Homo sapiens: one gene and its partners. The protein of the gene in region 6 interacts with the protein of the main gene of each other region in a pairwise test. Each region holds a gene or a part of one and is shown on either strand. Other genes may lie near its edges. The genes, in order: TNFRSF1A, LRRK2, MUC7, MAGEA11, RPS6KC1 and PRDX3.

Region 1 (4,118 bases), on a different chromosome or scaffold from region 6:
ACTTTTCTATGAGGCTTTCCCTCCGCCATCCCATCTGACACATCTCTTGTTCCTTAATTCCTTCAGCAAATAGTTAAGGGGCACAGTTAATGTGACAGGTCCCGTATGGGTGCTAGGGATGCTGAGGTGGATAATACACAGCTCGTGCTCTCAAGAGCTCTCACTTGAGTCAAAGACAGTCAGTTGTAGGCACTGAGATCTATACAGGGAGTGCTGCAGTTGCACAGTGAAGGACACTGAAGCAGCGTGGGGAAGCTCCTGAATTTTCTGGAGCTGAGCGCAGGAGCTGAGACCTGCTAAGCAAGGAAAGGCAGTGGACTAAGGCTCACCTCCTTCCCCAGTTCCTCCTCCTCCCAACTGGTGCTCCAGGACACCACATCACAATGCATTTGTGGATATTTTCCTCGGGATTGCTCTGAAATCATTTTTCACTGTAAGCCATCTTGGTTACTAGGCTGTAAGCTCTTTGAGAGCAGCAAAATCCTGTTTGCTTTGCCACAGTCTCTCCTGTATCATTCTTCCCTACTCCCCTACCCCACTTCTCTCTCTCTCTCTCTCTCTCTCTCACACACACACACACACACACACACACACACACACTGTGAGCTCTGCATTGCCCACTGAATGGTGAGAAATTCAGAAGGATGTTGCATTCCCTTTGTTTTCCCTTTCCTCCAGCTCCAGGCCAGGCTTCTGTCCCTTAGGAGACATAATCCCACCTGGGCTGAAGCACCCCAGGACGCAGGCACTTCCCTTTACCTGTTCAGGCTACCTTTACCCTCTGTTTTCCCAACACAGGTAGCCACCCAGTAATTACTACTAGTCACAGCAATATAAAAACTTTATTGAGTGCTTTCTATTTGCTACAACCTATTCCCCTGATGGACTGTCAAAGCTGTGGGCAGGGATTTTGTTCTCTGCTGTAATCCCAGCACCTATCACAGTGTCTAGCCCAGAGCGCACACTTAATAAATCAAATGAACACTTAACATGTATCAGTCTATTCAATCTTCAAAACAACAGTATGAGGTCAAGACTGTGACACCCATTTTGGAGATAAAGAAACGAAGGCATGGAAGGTTAGGTTATATAAGCTGCTCTTGTTCATGCAGGAGGTATGTGAGGGAGCCAGGGGCCGCCCCCAAACAGAAAACAGAAGCAGGATGTCAGGGCAGCTGGCTGGTGGGGAGACCGTGGGGGAAGGACAGTGGGAAGAAGGGAAGAGCGGGTGGGACTAAGGAGGCAGGAGGAGGCAGAAGAAGAAGAGTGAGACCCTGACCAGAGACGTGCTGCCTGGGGACCTGGGGCCGGGACCAGAGCGGAGCAGAGAGGAGGGGAAGGAGGATTAGCGAGAAAAGATTTCAAAAAAAGAGGCTCTGAGAAGTCTGAGGAGAGTCTGGGGAGATTGCTGGAAGAAAGGAATGGTAGGAGAGGAAGAGTATAAGGCACTAAAGAGAGGGGAGGTAGGCGCAGCCTTCAGAGGCCGGGCAGGGCAGGGAAAATCTGCCTGACTAGATGGGCCCAGGACATCTGAACAGGATGATTCCCGGACCAAGACGTGGAGGACGATCAAGGATACATTGAAACAAGGCTGAGGCCAGAGAAAGGGACATTTTCCAGTGACGAAAACAACTTTCTACCAACTTCCCCAAACTGAACTGTAGAATAAGAAACCAAGGGATTGTTGTTTAGGTCTGTGAGAAGCAGCGGGGAGGGGAAGCTGGAGGACAGGCCCAGGGACACTGACCAGGTGGGGGTAGGACTAGCTCCCTGGGAAGGCTCAGTCCCACAGCGGCTACCTGCCTAGCAGCAGGCAAAAGGGTAAAGAATGTCCCCAGGTGAGAGGCCGGGGCTTGGCCAGGGCACTGGGGACACTGTCCACTGGGTTGCCCTGCCCCATCCAGTGTCCCAGCCCATTCTCAAATACCTCCCACCATGAGCATCCCAAACCCACCACACCAGCCCATCCCCACTCCTCAACTCACTCCCCCACTTCACCAGCCGCCAAAATCCTGCCCTACAGGGTGTGCTCCACCAAGTTCCACAGGCAGCCTCGCCTCCCCACGGCCCAACACCCTCCAGGCCAGCCAGCTGACCGGAGGGACAGAATTCAGAACCGTCTGGACTCCCCGAGCACTAATCTTCCTACTCCCACTCCCTTCTTTTCCCCGCCAAATCTGCCCCACCCTGGGCCTATCTCCTGCCCACATTCCCTTGGCCGCCCACAAACTTCCACCGCTGTCAGGGGCCAGGGCTTCCTTTTACTCTCTCCCTTTCAAACTTCTCCCATTCCCCTGCCTCAGCGCAGCCCCTACTCCAAAAGGCGGATGAATGGGGAACCCCACACTGGCAGTGGCTGAGGTTAGGACCTGCAGGCCTGAGGCTGGCGCCAGGACCAGGCCCGGGCAGGAGAGGCTCGGCCCCCTCCCGGAGAGGGCCCACGCCAGCCGGAAGGTGCCTCGCCCACCAGCCCACTCTTCCCTTTGTCCCTGGTCTCACCAGTGGCAGCAGCAGGTCAGGCACGGTGGAGAGGCCCATGCCAGACAGCTATGGCCTCTCACTCCCCCATTTGGGCTCAGGGCAGTGTGGCAGCGGCAGTGCTGGGGCTTCCCGGGACTCGGTCTGTCCAGGACGTCCCAAGTGCCTTGGGGTGACAGTTGAGGGTTGAGACTCGGGCATAGAGATCACGGCCTGGTCCCAGTGATCTTGAACCCCAAAGGCCAGAACTGGAGCCTCAGTCCAGAGAATTCTGAGAAAATTAAAGCAGAGAGGAGGGGAGAGAAGGTGGGAGGGGAAGAGTGAGGCAGTGTTGCAACAGCGGGACAGGAAGAGCTGGAGGAGGAGGCCACAGGAGGCGGGAGGAGGAGGCCCAACGTTCTTTAACTCTTTGTAGTCCAGTCACAAGCACAGGAGTCCCAGATCTGGCTGCCTTGTGCCCCCAACCCACCAATCCGACCACTCCCAACCAAACACCAAGGGGCAATAAGCCCCTTGCCCACATCACTAGCCTTTCCCAGATGGATCACAGCAGTGAAAAGATCCAGAGTCTGGGAGTCAAATTCTCTGGGTTCCAATTCAGAATGCTTAGCTTTTTAGCTAAGAATGTGTCTTGGACACATAAATGAACTTCTCAGACACATAACTGAAACTGTCTGGATCTGTTTTCCAATTTGCAGAGTGGAGATAACCTGTCTCCTGGGGTTCCTGTAAGGATTTGTTCAGATGGGAGAGATATAGATAAGCGTCCGACACATGATAGGTACTCCATGTCCCTTAGTAATCCTCCCCTTTACTCCAGAGTTCTTCACTAGCCTCCTAGTCTCCCTCTTTCTTGGGAATTTACTGATCCAATCCAAAACTCAAAGTAAGTCCCAACCCTCGTTTTCTGCCCTGACTGGGTGCCTGCCATTCCTCACCCCAGGTCTCATCCAGTCTCTGCCTGGCCAGGTCCCCCCACCCTGCCCCACTGTTGATCCTGGCTCTGCCACCAATCATGCGACATCAGGCAACTCCTCTCCTAAGCCTCTGTTGGTTCCTTGTTTATTAAACAGGGGTAACAATGTCTGCCCACCTACATGGGGAAAGTGATGCCATGAGAATCAATGAGACGTATCCACGAAGCTGCCGTGGAAATAAAGATACCTCCATCAGGTGTTCCTAGCATATTCCCAGTGCCCTTTTCCTAAATATTCCAATACATCAATTATAACTCACCTTACAGATCATCGACTACAACCCCCTAGGTTTTTTTATTTCTTCGTTTGCTTGTTTTTCATTTTTGTTTTTGTTTTGAGGGTCCGCTCCGTTTCCCAGGCTGGAGTGCAGTGGTACCATCGCAGCTCACTGCAGCCTCGACCTCCCAGGTTCAAGTAATCCTCCCACCTCAGCCTCCCAAGCAGCTGGGACTATAGGTGCATACCACCACGCCTGGGTAATTTTTGTATTTTTTGTAGAGACAGGGTCTCACCATGTTACACAGGCAGGTCTTGAACTCCTGGGCCCAAATGATCTGCCCACCTCAGCCTCCTAAAGTGCTAGGATTACAGGTGTGAGCCACCGTGCCCACCCAACTGCCCGGTTTTATAGAGGAGAAAACTGAGGTCCAGAAACCCAATGTG
Region 2 (3,500 bases), on a different chromosome or scaffold from region 6:
GCCTAGAACTCCTGTCCTTAGGTGATCCACCCACTTCAGCCTCCCAAGTAGCTGGGACTACAGGTATGTGCCACCACACCCAGCTAATTTTTTTTTTTTTTTTTTTGTGAAGACAGGGGTCTCGCTCTGTTGCCCAGGCTGGTCTCAAGCTCCTGGGCTCAAGCAATCCTCCTGACTTGGCCTCTCAAAGTGCTGGGATTACAGGCGTGAGCCTCTGCACCTGGCCCTTAGTAGGTTTTAAGTCATATCTACCTGACAGAATTTCCTCCACATATTTAAAATTTTAATTATAGGAAAAAATGAAGTGGCTTATAATGAAGGATTAGGTGAAGTTGGAGATTTTAGTAGCAAAATGTAAGTTATCAGAATGGCTGCTCCCCAAGTAATGAAGCTAGAATAATAGAGGCAAGAAACGTGGCATTTTTAGCAATTGAATCTACATCTGATAGGAGAAAAAGAGAAAGAGCTCTATAAAATAGACAGGAGGTAGAACTCCTCAATGGCTCCCTCCAGATTTCTCTAGAATGAATTGATAAGGTCTAGAGATCACAGACACCCCTAGTAGGCTCTTTCACATTTCGAAATAAAATATGAAATTATAGATGCATTTTAAGTATATCTTCACTCAGTCTGTTTACAAGATGCCAACTTGACTAAGTTGCTCTTTACCTCTGAAAAAAAAATTGAAAGTCCTGATTTCAAACCGGAGATGAAAATTAACCTATTCTTCCTACTGTAGACTCCTCCCTCTCTAAATGTAAAGGATCTCCAATTCATTCTATTATACTATAGAACTATACTTGACATGGTCAAAAAAAAAAAAAAAAAGAGAAAGTGCATATATGTACCCTCTAGAGACTAATGGAAAAGTATCTAAGTGTGATGTGTAATAAATACCAATATAATAGAAATACTGAAAGTAAGACTCAGTGTGAGTTGAAATTACTCAGAGAAGAATATAATATGAAGAGGTAGAGCTTAAGCCAGATTGTATAAGAACGGATGAGCGGTGAGGAGAGTAGGCTGCTACATGATAAGGAAGCTGCTACAGGGAAGAGGCTATTTTGGGATAAGGCTGGATGCATAAGTAAAGTTGAATATTGCAAGGAGTTGAATGACAAGGTGAGAAATCTATATGCACCCAATAAGGAATAATGGCACAAGTTTCTTACTCGCTTACGGGAGTAAACAACGGCTATTTTAGGAAGATAAAAATGATTACTCAAGATCTCTTTACAATATTACTTTTGGATCTTTTCCAGATTAAACATAAATTGCTTTATTTTGTCATTACTTCCTTTTACATAATTTCAAATTGCTTTCAAAGGCGGCAATTTCTGATAGCTATTTCTACCTATACTACTCAAGTAGGACATCCTCCTCCACGTAAGCTGAACAGACGTTGACAATCCAGCTGTCATAGAAACTGACTATTTTTGTGCTTTCATAGAATACATCAAGACTTTTTTCCGAACTATTTAAGAAAATAACATTCTGAACAGCTTCTGGTGGTAAAAAAAAAAAAAAAAAAAAAAAAAAAAGTCACATAGGATGCCAAACTCATCTCTGTACCTACAAAGCTGACTCAAGGAAAAAACCTGTTTGTTTTGGTTGGTGAAGCAACAGTATCAGTAAACGCTTTGCAAAAAGATTCAGGCAACTGAGCTCTCCAGCACTACATGGAACTTCTGTGATTAAATAGAATCTCTGGCAGCAAAGCAGAGGTAACAATTGATCCATTAATCTATTCAATTAAAAGCTTATCTCTCTAAGAGAGAAGGTTCCCATCTTGCACAGTTACAATACAATTAAATTGGTAGTTTTACTTTATTATAATTATTCTAAAAACTCAAGCATGTAATTAATGCACAACAGGAAAGAGTCTAGGGGTTAAAGAAAAAATTTTAGCCACTTTCATTTATTTTGCTCCCCTTCTTCAAAGGTTGAACCCTTGAGAATAAAGAGATGTAAAATTTAGGAGCACAGTGAAAAGATAGGCAGGAAAAGAAAAATATAAAGCACCTAGCTTAACCGTCAATTTTCTAAAGACTGTCATTTATGAAGAAACATTAATAAAATATGAAACAAACTTTGAAAATAAAACTGGCAGTCTGGAATATCATGTTAAATGGCATCTAGAAACAAACCTTAATCTTTATTTTAAATAGTAATTAAGAATTACTATTAAATTAAATGAAGGAGAAATTTACCTTAATACCTTAAATTTATCATTAAGAGTTTTTCTTTTGGCACTTCCAGCTAATTCAACATATAAAGCAGTAAAGGATACTTACAGTAATTATACTAATAATATAAAGAAATCTGAAGGAAAAATACTACTTTTAAGTGAGTATTAAAATGTCAGTAGGAGACCCCTTTCTACATCCCCTTGTTAAGACCAATGATAATTTAAATTGATGTCATTGTACCTAGCATGGCCACAGTATTTGTATCAAACCATTTTGCTTTTTACTAGCTTGCACAAAAAGCTTGCGAATTCAGCAGCTAGTAGATTGTATGATGGAAAGAGATTTTGAAGGTGTGAGAAGACTTGAGTCTTAGGTCTGTCACAAGCTCTTTGATCCTCAGTGAGCAGCTTACTCTCACTTCGCTATGACAGTAAAACATCCGGTAATATTTCCAGGAGGGCAGTGAGATTTCAGTGAGAATCAAATATTGGCTGTGCAAAAGAAGGAAACTAGATCCACAGCTTTCACCATATACACAAATCATTTCAAAATGGATTAAAGACTTACATCTCAGACCTGAAAATATGCAACTACTAGAAGAAAACACTGGGGAAATGCTACAGGACATTGGTCTGTGCAATGATTTTTGGGGTAGGACCTCAAAAGCACAGGCAATTACAACAAAAATAGGCAAATGGGATTATATCAAGCTAAAAAGCTTCTGCACAACAAAGAAAATAATTAACAAAGTGAAGAGACAACATAAAGAAAGGGAGAAAATATTTGCAAAATATCCATTCAACAAAAGATTAACAACCAGAATACATAAGGAACTAAAAAAACTCAATTAGCAAAAAAAAAAAAAAAAAAAAAAGTCTTATTTTTAAATGGACAAAAGATCCAAATAGACATTTCTCAAAAGAAGACAGACAAATGGCTAACAGGTACATGAAAAAAAAATCCTAAACTTCACTAATCATTAGGGAGAGGCAAATCAAAACCATAATGAGATATTATCTCACCACAGGCAGAATGGCTATTATCAAAAAGACAAAAAATAACAAATGCTGGTAAGGATGCAGAAAAAGGGGAATGGTGGTACACTGCTGATGGGAATATAAAGTAGCACAGCCATGATGAAACACAGTATGGAGGTATCTTAAAAAACTAAAAAGAGAATTTTCATATGATCCAGTAATCTCATCGCTGGGTATATATCCAAAAAAAGAACATCAGTATATCAAAGATATATCTGAACTCCCATGTTTATTGCAGCCCTGTTCACAATAGTTAAAATACAGAATCACCTTA
Region 3 (4,273 bases), on a different chromosome or scaffold from region 6:
TGTTCATTTCTTTCTTTTACCACATATACAATCCAGCAGAAGATATAGTAGACTCAATCACTAAAATATATCCTAAACCCACTCTTATCTTTTAATTGCTGAAATTTAGTGCAAGTCACCATCATCTTTTATCTGGACCACTGCCATAGCTTCCTGACTAGTCTCCTTATCTCAGCTTTTGTTACCTGCTACCTATCTTCTCCTGAGAATCCTGTCATGTAAATCCCCTGGGAGTGCTTTGATCATGCTGAGACTTCCTGACAGATTTGAAACCATATTCCACACCAAGACCTAAAGGCCTTACAAACCTGGGTTTTCATCTGTGTCAGTTCTCATCACACTCACTATAAAGTTTGTGCTCTATAGATATTGGATAAATGAAACAAATTATTTCCTTATGCTCTATCTACCTACCTACCTACCTACCTACCTAGTCTATCTACCTATCTATCTAGTCTATCTACCTATCTGTATATATTTTTAAGACAGGGTCTCATTTTGTCACCCAGGCTGTGGCATAGTGGTATGATTACGGCTTGCTGCAGCCTTGACCTCCCAGGCTTAAGATCCCAACCTCAGCCTCCGAGTAGTTGGGATTACAGGCACGCACCACCACACCTGGCTAATTAAATTTTGTTGTTGTTGTTGTTGTGGAGATACTGTCTCATTATGTTACTCAGGCTAGTCTTGAACTTCTCTGAGCTCAAGTGATCCTCCCTCCTAGGCTTCCCATAGTGCTGGGATTAGAGGTGTGAGCCAGTGCACCGGCCAATTGTCCATATTTATAGGTTTCCTGGAAATAAAAGATGTCAAGCTTCTTGGAAATAGGGGTTGCCTATTATGCTTTAAAAGTCTCAGGTAGGTACACTAAATGTTTGTTATTGATAGTTAAGGAAAAAACTTATTTGGGTGAATACTTACCGAGAAGCAAGCACTCAGTGCACAGATGCACACAAACAGCGGCAGAGTTTTCATTCTTTCTGATGTCTCCTGGGAAAAGCAGAAATGTGGCGTACTATTAGTTATGATATTATGGGAGAGGAATGCGTTTTGGTAAATAACTTATTTTTATTAGAAAGTACAGGCAAAAAGAGACCAATGGTTTCTGAAAATTATGTATACATTTTCATTCCATAGGGGTGATGCAAAATTGCTTCAGGCCTAAAATGCATTCTTTTAGAGAGGAAGCAATGGAGGAGGCTCAAGAATTATTCTAACTAGTTTGCAAAATGAGCATTTTCTATTGATATTAAAGATTGGCTAGGAAAGGCAGGATCTTAGGAAGTTTAGCAATAAGAAAAGGAAATAATTTTCTTCTTATTTCTTTTCTAATTCAGGAAGCTCCCCTCTGTGGGGAACCATCATATAAATGACCTGATACTACACAGTTTTGCAAAGACTCCTGATGTTAGAGGAAAATGCTCTTTGTCGCTGTGCTATAAGGCTGTCACTTGGAACAAAGAACCAGGTCAAATGGACTCTTCCTCCAATTTCATTCTACTGAAGATTTTGCCATTTGATAATCCTTTTTCTTGTACCTTTTTTTTTTTTTTGAGACAGAGTCTCGCTCTGTTGTCCAGGCTGGAGTGAAGTGGCACACGCATGGCTCACTGCAGCCTGCACCCCCCAGACTCAAGCGATCCTCTCACTTTGGCCACCCTAGTAGCTTGGACTACAGTCATGCACCACCGCTCCTGGCTATTGCTATTATTATTTTTATTTTTTGTAGAGACACGGTTTCACTGTGTTGCCCAGGCTGGTCCTGAACTCCTGGGCTCAAGCAATCCACCCTCATCGGCCTCCCAAAATTCTGGGATTACGGGTGTGAGCCACCGTGTCTGGCCGATACCCTTTTTCTAAGTCCCAAAATGACAGGAATTATTCTTTATTCATTGTTATGTCATCATGCCTAGTACATAGTGCAGACTTAATACATATTTTTTTTGAATAACTACTTGCAAAAGAGAATTGTATTTTGGCTATAGGTTGTAGAAGGGAAGAGTGAGAGAAGAATGTGGTCTTTTGTTTTTCTCATTTTGGTTATATATGTAATGTGTACATGTCAGCTTATCAGCTTTAGAAAACAAAATAAAGGTTAAATCATATAGACAGATTACATATTAGGGCAGGTAATTAGTGTGCATGTCAATGTGGTGGGCTGTGAGATTAGACACACTTTACAATACAATCCCATGGTTTATAAAATGGGTGTTAGAGTCAGTCAGAGACTTGATTTAAGCTCTGCCCACTTACTGTGTGACTCTGCCACTCACTGCATGACTTTGAGTGAGTTGCAATCTTACATCATAAGAATGTCCTGAGGATTGACTGGAATAATATATATATTACAAATCGTACTGAGAATAATGTCTTATCCATAATAAAGTCTCAGTGGTATTATTATAGTACTAGCACACTAAGAAGAAAACAATCTGACCCAATTGAAAAACGAAATGGTTACTTATTATTCTTCAGGTTCCTAATATATTGTCAGATTTGTTTTTAAATTTCAAGACCAAAAAACATTCCTACCAATCATATTGTGTTCTAATAACATATGAATTGAGTGTTACCACACTGTTTGGCAGTTCATAAGAAGAGAGGAGAATAACTGTATTAGAACAACTATTGCTATTACTTAATATATGTATATTACTTGAAAGCTGTTTAGTTTATATTAGAACCTATCTAAAGTATCCACATACCTGGTGCAGTGTGAATCTTTCTTCTTAGGGTGTTCAATCCAGTTGCTTGCTTTTAGCCAATCCTTTGAGGATGGTAACTAGAAGCAAAAGAAGAGAAAGCACAAGAGAATTTTCAGGTTTTATAACACTCCAGTCGAGCTTTTTGGAAATAGGAAATCTATTAGATTTAAGATAAGGTCATTTGTGTCAAGGAATTTACTTTTAAAGAAAAGAATAGTTGTGGTTTGCTGAGATTGACAGTAGTTCTTTGTGCATCAATTTCTTCCTGATGAGCACAGTGACGATCAGAGGTTCTCAATGAGTAACTTATGTGCTTGATGAGTAGTGGAACAGTAATTGAAGGCGCTTACGGAGAAACAAACAACCATGGCCCAGGTCCTCCCAACAGGAACAGATCATCCACTCTTTCCTGTTGGGCTCTCAAAGTAAGCAGAGTGATTGCCTTCTGACAGTTAATGTGATGGAACACCATATTTCCTTGTCAATAAGACAAGTTAATAAAGGACAGAGGATTTAAAAAAAATACTGTGGTGCCAAGTACTGGTGCAGGGCAGTATTTAAAGCCAAAAAATCAACACTGAATTTTTAAATACAAGTAATTAAAAACAATTTTTGACTTTTTGTCTTGAAAAATATTCAAACATATAGAAAAGTGAGGAGGGTAGTAGAACTATATACTCATTCCCTGGTTTTCATAATTCTTAACATTTTGCTATATATCTTAGTTGTTTTGCTGAAGTATCTTAAGGTAAACTACAGAAATTGTAACAGCTACTCTCTATTTCAGCATTTCTCTCTAAAAAGCCTTTCTTTTATAACACAACACCATCAACCTATAACAATATTAATAATTCAAACATATAATCTAAAATTGAGTTTATACTCAAATTTTGGCAAAAATATTTTTAGTCATTTTGTTCCTACCAGGACTCAACTAAGGGCCGTGTGTTGCAGTGACTTGTTATGTCTCTAGTTTCTTTTATCCCAGAAAATTTTCTCCCATTTCCCCCATGGTAGTGATATTTTGATAGCTAGACTAGTCATTTTATAAATATTTATTTTTAAAAAGAAACTTAATAACTTAAAAAAGAACTTAAGAATCATTTTAATAGAGATCTTCAAAATTAGATATTTCTACTATGTAAAATCGTTAATCTGGAATACAGTTTTGAAGGTGTGATTCCACTTCTAGCTAGTCAGTTTGTTCTTTTGCACATACAGTCTCTGAGGGCTTACATTCTTTGGGTTTGATTCCTTGCTTCTCCACTTAGTAGCCATGTAATTTTTGACAGGTTAGCTAACTTCTTTGAGCCTCAGTTTTTCTATCTGCTAATTAGGTGTGACATCTACTTTACAAAGTTGTCAGACTGAAAGTAGATAAGTTAAAAGTTCTGACATGGTTCTTTTGAATGGAACACCCTCAGCTATTATGCTGCCATTAGTGGAAAGTTAGGGACAGTTTTTGAGATAGCAATGAGTTAGTAAATATGGGCTATAATATTAATTTCTTTTCATCTTTTTTTGCTAGCAACTAGTGATATGCATTTACAATATACTTGTTATAGTTA
Region 4 (2,709 bases), on a different chromosome or scaffold from region 6:
CTTTTGGCCACTTGAGAGACATTATGCAGTACTGAGAAAACAAATGAATTAAGGGACAGAGGTGTACTTCAGGCTGCAAAGAGTGAGAATAGAATGGGCTCTAGATGAATTCAGGCCAACCTTGTGGTTTACCAGTGATATGATCTTGGGAAAGTTACCAAGCACCATGAGACTCAGGTTCATCCAGAAAATGGGTTTGATAGACCATTTTTTTAGGACTGTTGTAATGTATAAAATGTATTAAAACACCTGGGATGATGCCTGGCATGTACTGGATATTTAATGATTGACAGCTATTTCTAGTATTACTGTGACCCCAGGTGCTACCACTCTCTACTTTGGAATATTTTTTATTGTCCAGGACATCTCAGAGAATCTGCAACTCAGTAGGAAACTGCATTTCCTTGGTGAATATGTATGTGGGGGGAGGGGGGTGTACATGTGTGTATGGGTGTGTACTTTCATAGAACAACAGATTAATATGGATAAGAAGACAAGAATTAATGACCTTCTCCTTTTATTTCTCTGTTTCACAACACCAGTTCAGCTTTATTGTTAAGTTCTTACATTCTCCAAGAAAATACCTATTGCAAATCACAGCAAGATGGAAGATTTCCCAAAATGTTTTACAAAATGGCAAACACTTGCACTTGAAATGGATAAGCAAAACAACATGTGTGGTCAGTATCATCCATACACTTAGATGTTGAAGCTAACTAAAACTTTTATTACAGGAACAATATTTGAAAATTACCAAAGGGAAACAAAAAGAAATCTCCAAGTCACCCGATGGAAGAGAAACCTAAAGGCAGTATACAATGTGTTCCCTTCCATTCACTGTGCCTTCTACTACTGAGAACACTGACTTCTCTCATCAAACACAGAGGGAAGAATGGGCCTGATTTCACACAGGACAGGGAAACTGCTGGGTGTGGCCCTGAAGCATGCATTGGCCCATTTCCCTGCCCGCTGGCCCTGGTTGCATCTCATGCTCAGACTCCCTCTCCCTCCTCTCTCAAAGCATCTTCATACAGGGATGGGTAAGAAGTGGGATCCCTCCCATTGGCATTGGCTATGTACTCAAGAACTTTCATCTTGCTGGTCTCAGCGTGGGCCCTTGGACCCCACAGGAACTCATAGCATGCAGGATCAGTGCCGGGCACCTGCCGGTACACCAGGTACTTTTCCTGCACCCAATTTTGGGTAAGGAGCCTCTTGGGCTCCCCAAAGAGGAAGTGCTCCCTTCCAGCATACACCCCCATAATGCTCAGGACTTCCCACATAACCTCTTCAGGGATGCAGTTCCCCTCCATGAAGATTACACCCAGGACTATTATCAGGAGGCCAGACTTGGGCATGCTCTGCTCATTACACTGTATGCCATCATAAGAGAGGTTGAGGGAGGTGACAAGGACATAGGAGTGGCTAGTGGGGTCCACTTCCTTCACATCAATGCCAAAGAGCAGTTGCATGCATACAGAGGCTTCCCTAAATATCTCAGGAAAGTAGTCCTCATAATTTTTGATGACACTCCCCAGCATTTCTGCCTTTGTGATCAGCCCCTTGACTCGATACTTGCGGAGCAATAAATGAACCAAATCAATTATCTTGTCATGTAGTATATCTTGGGAAAAGGACTCAGGGTCTATCAGGTCAGGCGAGGTACTTGGCCCCTCCTTTTCTTGGCTGCCAGAGCCCTCATCAGATAGGCTCCCAAAGATGGCATCCATGGCAGTGGGAGAGAAGGACTCTTCCTGAGGACTCTGGGGAGGACTTGGTGACTCAGCAGCAGGCAACTCCTCTAGAGTGCCCACATTCAGAGTAGAGGAGAAGAAGGCAGCCTCCTGCTCCTCAGCTTGGAGAGCCTGTGCACCCACCAGGCCCAGGTCTTCTTCTTGGGCCTGAAGGCCTTCCTCAGGCTTGCAGTGCTGACTTCTTTGCTCAAGAGGCATGATGACTCTGGTTAGGTCAGCAGGCCGAACTGTGGGAAATATCTGGGTGATGGGGCCCCACAGCCTGGGGAGAGAGGGAGCGTGAGAACAGACTCAGATGAGATATGAACCATGGAGAATCTAACAAAGGCCTACTTACACTTGTTCTCCTCCAGTGATCCTCTGGGTTCTCCTGGGACTCCTGTCCTCCAGGTTGGCCTGTTCTCTAAAAACCTGAAAAAGGAAGTGAGAAGGCTGCTCAAGATGCAGCTGGACATCAGAGCAGGAGGCTCCAGGACTGAGGTAGGGCAGGTGAGGTTGCAAGCTGGGGGTCCCTTTCTGTACTGGGGCAGGTGGGGCCATTTGTAGATTAAGGGTGAACATCTCATCTTGACTACTGGCACTGCCTAGGCTTCCTGTGTTCTGAGATCTGAAGACATTGCTTGAGACCAAGGCCTCACTGCTCAGTTTTTGGAGCTTCTAGAAGAGGAATCATGGGGCCATCAGGCTGCAGACTGCAAGCACCCATCCTGGCACCCCAGCACTGTCAGAAAGGTGGGCCAAACTCTGTGAGTTTCTCACTTTTTTGGAGTGGATGGTCCCCTCTGTGCTCAGGGCCCTCACCTTTCTCCTGCCAGGGCCTGGAAGACACAGCTCTCCTGACCTGAGAAACTCTCAGATCAATAGCTCTTTCCTGATATGAAAGAGGACATGTGGGGATACACATCTGGCCACATGTACACAGGGCTACCCAGGAAGGACAGCAAGAGATGGTGAC
Region 5 (4,034 bases), on a different chromosome or scaffold from region 6:
TACATCAATATTCATAATGGCATTATTCACAACAGCCAAAATGTAGAAACAATCCAAATGTCTACTGACAGATGAATGGCTAAACAAAATGTGGTAATACATATGATGGAATATTATTCAGCCTTAAAAGGGAGGAAATTCTGATAAATGCTACAGCATGGACGAACCTTGAAAACTTTTTGCTAAGTGAAATAAGGACAAAAAACAAATATTGTATGATTCTGCTTATATGAAGTACTTAGAACAGTCACAGTCAAATTCATAGAGACAGAAAGTGGAATAGTGGTTGCTAGGAGCTGGAGTGTGGAATGGGGAGGAGTTATTGTTTAGTGGGTACAGAGTTTCCATTTGAGGTGCCGAAAAAGTCCTGGAGATGGATAGTGGTGATGTCGCACAAAAATGTACTTAATGCCACTACTGAAGTGTATATTTTAAAACGGATAAAATGGTGAATTTTATGTTATGTATATTTTACGATAAAAAAATCAAATGAGAAACACTCATGGCAACTTCTTTTATGATTTTGACCCCATATTCCACTCTTCTGCTTAAACAAACAAAATATAAAAAAAAAACAACCACAAAAATCAGTACCATTCACAGAAGTACAGCTTAAAATATGTACACACCATAAAATAAAAACAGACTCTGGTTCATCACCCCAAAGCTATTTATCCTGTGTTTATTACTAAAATAATTAATGTCCATTCTAATTATGAATGATGTATTTACATTAGGCACAAGCTCCAACCAAACATATAGAGAGAAAAGGGGAGAAACTGAAGCAATGGAATTGTGTCAACAGACTGACATGGCAACCATCTGTTGACATTAATGTCCTTTGAATCCAAGAGACTCAAATCATGTGGTAGGGCAGGGATCTTCACCTTAGTTGTGAAGTCCTACTTTCATGTCACAGGGCACTTCTGGAAGGAAGTTCTGTAATGGCCAGCTCTAAGTACTTGCAGATTTCCTACTAGTCCTACACAGGAAGTCATTCTTGTGTCTCACCTGCATAAGTTCCTGTTATGAGGCCAGGGGACTAGTGAGTTGAAATCTAGTTCCAGGGAGTGATGTCATTTTGACTGAACTATGATCCTGGTGACCTGCTCCCCAACCTGGTGTTGTTGCAGCCTTTCAGCTGGGGTTTGGATTATAAGGGGGCCAAAAAGGAAAAAGGGAAATAGAATAATAGAAAAAGGAAAAATGCTTGCACATTTCCTTTGTTTCACTAGAGCATTTTCTGTTCCATTTAATTTGATGAGAGGACCTGGTCGATGGCAGATGGAAGCTGTACAGATGCTCCTGGAGTGGGGTTGGGCTCTCACACAGATCTCAAAAATGCAAAGAAGATTAGAACATATCAAAAATTTCAATTATTTCTGGTGGTTTCTAACTTGGAAATAGTGACTTCTTCTTTGGCTAACGTTTAAAAAAAAACAGATGTTAACACTTTTAAAACATTTGTAAATTTTTGCAACAATGCATAACTACAGGAGCTACCTTAGCAACAAAAAGAAGTAACAAATACAAATGTTTGGAGATGTGTGAATACTTACATTCTTTCTAAATCACGTCAAATAGATTAGTTCAAATCTGAAAATCTCATCACCATAAGTAACAAACTAGGACTGCCATTCAATTCCATTTAGATGAGATCCTTTGCTTCTTAGTATACCAAGCCAAAAAGTAAAACAAAGTCAAGCATGAGAAGCAATGGTAGAAACTGATAATATTTCACAAGGAAAGGAACAGACGCATTTCTTCAAGGAAAAAAAGGGGGGAGGGTTATTAAATGAAGAAGAGATCTAATGTTTCACCATGTTTATTTGATATCATGATTTCTTAGTCCTTACACAAAGGGAAATAAGCACTCCCTTCCCTTTTTTGTTGCATGTGTGTTAGCAGGAGTCGGAAGAACAGAATATGAGGGAACAAGCAGAGGGTGCAGAAAATAGAAAGATGGGGAAAGAAAGATGCTGTTGAAGACACAGAGTGAGTGTTTATATGAACCCTTCTCTAAATAAGCAGTATCAACAAAGAGTACAAAGCTGACAACATGGAGTGTCTTCTTACAGAAATAATCTGGGACCACATTCAACATACATTATACAGCATCAGGGTACAGGTTTTCCGTCAGAAATTATGTGTATATTCTTTTTTCTCGCTTTTAAGTTTCATTGATGACATTGTTCATATACTTTTAGTGTATTATTAAGCAAATATTAATTTAATCATATAAACCAATCCTGGTCAGCAAAAAGCACTGTTAGCTGCCATGTAAAGGTCCTTCTGTCAAGTAAAACTTCATTCTACACTTCTAGCTTCCTATCAGAGGAACTTCTTGAAGGAACTCTTTCAGTTGGCTTTACAACTCATCTGCAACACCAAATGTGGATTAAATTCAGATCACACCTTGGTTGTGTATATATGTATATAACAGCCCCTGGCACAATTAGCTAATATCTTGTAATTGTAAACGAATTGTTCTCTTTTAGCCATTTCCCCCCCATTTCCTATAACGGTCTTTATCCAAATGCTTTGGTGCTCCATAAGTAACTGTGAGTCAGAGGTGCCTCAGTGCTGGAGATGCCTGTCACAGAGAAGATCAGAATGTGTGAAGATAACCCTGCATTACGTTCATCTCATCAGTTCTGCCCAATCCACAGGGGTAAAAAATGGATGAGATTTGATATCTTCAACACCAGCAACTCCAGCACCAAGTCGTTCCAGAGGATTGAACTGCAAGAGCTAAAAAAAGACGGACTTAGTGAGTAACAGGAATCCAACTGGCAAATCAAAGGAAAACCAATATTTGAAAAGAAACAACTTCTAAATTCAACCCTGGTAACAAGCAGTCTTGATTAATAGCCAAGTGACCATTTTTCTTGAAAGGGAGCTATGTCTAATACCATTCTAGCTGTGGGGTGTGAGAGACACCTGAACTGAGTTTATGGCTTTTCAACTGATGGGAAACATGGCCTTGAGTAACTTACTTTGTTTCCCTCATCCTCATGTAATATAATAGGATAGTTATACCTATCAATTTCCTACCCCAAAAGTACACCATGACATTAATTAGATATTGCACTAGATTCTGAGATAGCCAGTTACTTCCTTCATGATTAGAAAATTTGGGAAGCACAGTAAATCTTTCGACCCCTAATCAACTATGTATGTATTGAGACTAAACTTTACCTAAAGTGTGAATAAGCTGATTAGTATTCCAAAATCACTAGTCTTTGGCATAGTTGACACAAATGAAATAATTTAATATAATGAATGAAACAAGTTTTGGTTTCTTCAGAAATAGGAATCATGTGTAAAATAAGTAAAAAAAAATTTTGTGGTTTAATAATGTCAAATTTTTGTGTTAACAACTTTACTGAAGGATAATTTATATAAATTCATCCCTTATAAGTGTACAATTTGATGACTTTTAGTAAATTTAAAGAGTTGTGCAACTAGCATCACAATCCAGTTTTAGAACATTTTTTTTTTTTTTTTTTTTGAGACGGAGTTTCGCTCTGTCGCCCAGGCTGGAGTGCAGTGGCGCGATCTCGACTCACTGCAAGCTCCGCCTCCCGGGTTCACGTCATTCTCCTGCCTCAGCCTCCCGTGTAGCTGGGACTACAGGCGCGCGCCACCATGCCCGGCTAATTTTTGTATTTTTAGTAGAGACAGGGTTTCACCGTGTTAGCCAGGATGGTCTCGATCTCCTGACCTCGTGATCCGCCCGTCTCGGCCTCCCAAAGTGCTGGGATTACAGGCGTGAGCCACCGCACCCGGCCTTTTAGAACATTTTGATTACCCTAAAAAGTTTCCTCATGCCATCTACAGTTAATCCCCACCCCCATCCCCAGCCCTCGGCAACCACTGACCTGCCTTTTGTCTCTATAAAGTTGCCCTTTCTGAACATTTCATATAAGTAAAATAATAAAATATGTAGTCTTTTGACGCTGCCTTCTTTCACTTATCATTATGTTTCTGAGATTCATCCACACTGTAGCAGGTATCAACAGGCCATTCCTTTT
Region 6 (3,500 bases):
TAAAATTCAAAAAATTAGCCGTGGTGGTGGGCGCCCTGTAGTCCCAGCTACTCAGGAGGCTGAGGCAGGACAATGGCGTGAACCCAGGAGGCGGAGCTTGCAGTGAGCTGAGAGAGCGCCACTGCACTCCAGCCTGGGCGAGAGCAAGACTCCGTCTCAAAAAAAAAAAAAAAGGCCTGCCTGTCTCTGATAATTGGTTCCTGGCTCCCCACCCCACCCCCTCTACCCCACAGCAGCTTCACCCATTTGCATATCATCTGCACGCTTGCTTCAAGAGTGGGCTCCCTTTTGTGGATATTTCAGGTCAATAGCTCTCGAGGCTGAGAGAACATGGACCTCACTGCTTTTGGGGAAAAAAACCTACCGTAGGAGAATCCGGTGTCCAGTTCGCTGGGCAGACTTCTCCATGTGTTTCTACATACTGGAACGCCTTCACCAAGCGGAGGGTTTCTTCCACGCTTCGGCCCACTGGGAGATCGTTGACGCTCAAATGCTTGATGACTCCATTGGGGTCAATTATGAAGAGACCTCTGCATGATCATTTATCCTCATCAGTGCCTCAACAGTACCAGAACTAGAACAGTCTAACTTCTTCCCTTTTAGGTCTTTAATTCTCCTTTTAATAAAATATTTATTAAGCGTAATCATATGCTTAAAGGTGGGGTTTTCACTGTTGTGCAAAAAACTTATCATCTCTTACTGATGACAGATGCTTTAACAAAGGCAGTACTGGACCAGGTCACCATAAAACATGCAGTATGGTCACACTTACAAGTTCACATAGTGCCCTGAATGTTACACAGTATCGGAAAGTCACTGAACTAGAGAGAGCAAAGACTATTAGTGACTTGGCAAGCATTCTTTGAGCTGCTGTATCACATCTTGGCAAGAAACTTATAGGCAAATGGGAAGAGACAGAGGTGTATTTTATCTAGGTTCAACAACTGTTTATTATGAATGAATTATTGGGTAAATGGGGGGAAATCCCACGGGAAAAATCTTCATAGAAAGAATGTACAGGCTCTAAGTCTATGCAAAACAGAAAACCATGCCCATCACTTTTAATCATGTAGCAGCATGTAATGAGATGAACCACGCTACCACAGTGGTCTGTGTTTATCTTCTGTGTTGGTGTTACTGTGACAGATGCAGATATGTTTAGCCTAGAAGTTTTTTTGGTTGTTTGGTTTAAATATAGGGTCTCACTGTATTGCCCACGCTGGAGTGCAGTGCTCTTCTCAGGTGTGATCACAGCAGGCTGCAGCCTCGAACTTCTGGCTCAACTGATCCTCCCACCTCAGACTCCCAAGTAGCGTGACTATAGGTGTGTGTCACTGTGTCCGGTTATTTAACCTACAGGTTTTAACAGTCTGTCTTAAAAGGATGTGGAAATTTCAGGTATCAATCACTCATGGAAAAGGCAGGTTAGAGAAAACTCAGGATAAAAGATGCTTCTCCCTCCCTGGGTCAGGCACTGGGAGCCTGGGGTTTGAGGTGAAACTGTTCCCAGAGGGTGCAGCCAGCTGAAGTCCACCAATAGAAGGTGAGGCAGAGCTGGGACAGAGCAGGGCCCATAGACTCCCAAAAGTCTTTATCTTATAAGCCAGACTCAGCTTCTCTCTCTTGTTAATCTCAATATTAAAACGGGTACAGAGGTAACTGCAAAATTAGTGAGTTCTCATAGGGAAAGGGACCGTAGGAGAAAAATAGCCAGTACCCTTTCTCTGGCCATTGACAATTCTGAAAGACCTAGGCATTCGTTTGATAATCTCTTTAAAGTTTAAAAAAAAAAAAATGGTCTGCCAGGTGCGGTGGCTCATGCCTGTAATCCCAGCACTTTTGAGAGGCCGAGGCAGGCAGATCACGAAGTCAAGAGTTTTGAGACCAGCCTGGCCAACACGATGAAACCCCATCTCTACTAAGAATACAAAAATTGGCCGGGCGTGGTGGCGTGTGCCTGTAATCCCAGCTACTCGGGAGGCTGAGGCAGGAGAACTGCTTGAACCCGGGAGGTGGAGGTTGCAGTGAGCCGAGATCACGCCACTGCACTCCAGCCTGGGCGATAAAGCAAGACACCGTCTCGAAAAGAAAAGAAAAAAAAAAAAAGAGAGGAAAAAAAGGCCCAAACTCTAAGATGCCACTCAGCGCTAAAACCCAAGGTGTAACCCAAGAAAGAGCAGGCCAGAGGTCACCTACAAGACAGGCAGGTGAGCTGGCTTTGTTTGTTTGTTTGTTTGTTTGCTTTTGAGACAGAGTCTTGCTCTGTCGCCCAGGCTGGAGTGCAGTGGTGCGATCTCAGCTCACTGCAAGCTCCACCTCCCAGGTTCACGCCATTCTCCTGCCTCAGCCTCCCGAGTAGCTGGGACTACAGGCGCCCACCACCACGCCCAGCTAATTTTTTGTATTTTTAGTAGAGACGGGGTTTCACCATGTTGACCAGGATGGTCTCGATCTCTTGACCTCGTGATCCACCTGCCTCGGCCTCCCAAAGTGCTGGCATTACAGGCCTGAGCCACCGCGCCCGGCCAGGTGAGCTGGCTTTAAGCTGACCAGCCCCCAGCAAAACTGTGAGGCACAGCACATCAAAGGGGGATCCCCTCTCTTCCTTCCTGGAGGTCAAGTTCTGCCCTATCCCTCCTTCACTCCTATTCTCAGCAGACTTCAAGATGCCAATTCTAAGACCCAAGTTCTCATCCCTCCCAGGAAGGTTATGTTTGAATGTGGGGCTGCTGAGGACTGAAAGCTTTTCACACTCAAAGGAATAAAGGTTTAATAAGGGACTGAATACAGATAGAAATGATGTTCTGGGGCAGAAATCCTAACAACTGCTGCCAGTAACTATGCTAAAAACTCTAGCTGTGTCACTATTTAATCCTCACACCCACCTGTGACGTACCACCTCATTTTAGTTATGGGAAAACTGGGGCTCAACAAGGTTAAATCAAATCAGTTGCCCAAAGTCACACAGCTATTAAGTAGCTGAGTTAAAAAAAAGAAAAACTCAAACCAAGGATTGTTTGGTTCCAGGGCTGAAGATGGTCACCATTCCAAGAGACTACCTCTTACCCTGCTAGTCCCCCCTTCTGCAGAGTCTGATGGCTTCAATGTCAGGTGTGTGTCCCCATGGAAGTGGCTCCCACATAGTTAGGGAGTATGGAGCAGTGTGGCCTCAAGACGCAGCCAGCCTTCTTCAGAAAGAGACCCAAGGTGGTGGAGGGGACATGCATGTCTCAGCATTTCTGAGAGACCGCCAACCCTTGCAGGAGGCATTTCATCAGTGTTTATTAAAGACTAAAATTAAGGATTGATTATTATAAATTTTAATTCTTTTTAATATAATAGGGATGAGGTCTCACTATGTTGCCCAGGCTGGTCTTGAACTTCTGAACTCAAGTGATCTTCCCGCCTTGGCCTCCCAAAGTGCTACGATTACAGGCATGAGCCACCATGCCCAGCCAGGATCTTCTGGTTTTAAAAATGCTTTACCAAGGTCTACATAA

The links.
Region 1: the proteins of PRDX3 (region 6) and TNFRSF1A interact in a two-hybrid assay, tested with the Homo sapiens proteins (one large-scale study listed by BioGRID and IntAct).
Region 2: the proteins of PRDX3 (region 6) and LRRK2 interact in binary tests that used the Homo sapiens proteins (3 or more experiments, as listed by UniProt).
Region 3: the proteins of PRDX3 (region 6) and MUC7 interact in a two-hybrid assay, tested with the Homo sapiens proteins (one study listed by IntAct).
Region 4: the proteins of PRDX3 (region 6) and MAGEA11 interact in a two-hybrid assay, tested with the Homo sapiens proteins (one large-scale study listed by BioGRID and IntAct).
Region 5: the proteins of PRDX3 (region 6) and RPS6KC1 interact in a two-hybrid assay, tested with the Homo sapiens proteins (one large-scale study listed by BioGRID and IntAct).

The regions. Positions count from the first base shown.
Region 1 is NC_000012.12:6,339,277-6,343,394, forward strand, and holds the start of TNFRSF1A (tumor necrosis factor receptor superfamily member 1A isoform 1 precursor), read right to left. Parts: upstream 2,801-4,118; 5' UTR 2,539-2,800; coding exon 2,500-2,538; intron 1-2,499.
Region 2 is NC_000012.12:40,227,997-40,231,496, reverse strand, and holds part of LRRK2 (leucine-rich repeat serine/threonine-protein kinase 2), read right to left. Parts: intron 1-3,500. UniProt on the Homo sapiens protein: Serine/threonine-protein kinase which phosphorylates a broad range of proteins involved in multiple processes such as neuronal plasticity, innate immunity, autophagy, and vesicle trafficking.
Region 3 is NC_000004.12:70,470,724-70,474,996, reverse strand, and holds the start of MUC7 (mucin-7 precursor), read right to left. Parts: upstream 2,801-4,273; 5' UTR 2,706-2,800; intron 991-2,705; 5' UTR 976-990; coding exon 922-975; intron 1-921. UniProt on the Homo sapiens protein: May function in a protective capacity by promoting the clearance of bacteria in the oral cavity and aiding in mastication, speech, and swallowing. Binds P.aeruginosa pili.
Region 4 is NC_000023.11:149,715,060-149,717,768, reverse strand, and holds the end of MAGEA11 (melanoma-associated antigen 11), read right to left. Parts: intron 2,166-2,709; coding exon 2,092-2,165; intron 2,017-2,091; coding exon 993-2,016; 3' UTR 501-992; downstream 1-500. UniProt on the Homo sapiens protein: Acts as androgen receptor coregulator that increases androgen receptor activity by modulating the receptors interdomain interaction. May play a role in embryonal development and tumor transformation or aspects of tumor progression.
Region 5 is NC_000001.11:213,271,241-213,275,274, reverse strand, and holds the end of RPS6KC1 (ribosomal protein S6 kinase delta-1), read right to left. Parts: intron 2,752-4,034; coding exon 2,641-2,751; 3' UTR 501-2,640; downstream 1-500. UniProt on the Homo sapiens protein: May be involved in transmitting sphingosine-1 phosphate (SPP)-mediated signaling into the cell. Plays a role in the recruitment of PRDX3 to early endosomes.
Region 6 is NC_000010.11:119,168,813-119,172,312, forward strand, and holds part of PRDX3 (thioredoxin-dependent peroxide reductase, mitochondrial isoform a precursor), read right to left. Parts: intron 531-3,500; coding exon 365-530; intron 1-364. UniProt on the Homo sapiens protein: Thiol-specific peroxidase that catalyzes the reduction of hydrogen peroxide and organic hydroperoxides to water and alcohols, respectively. Plays a role in cell protection against oxidative stress by detoxifying peroxides.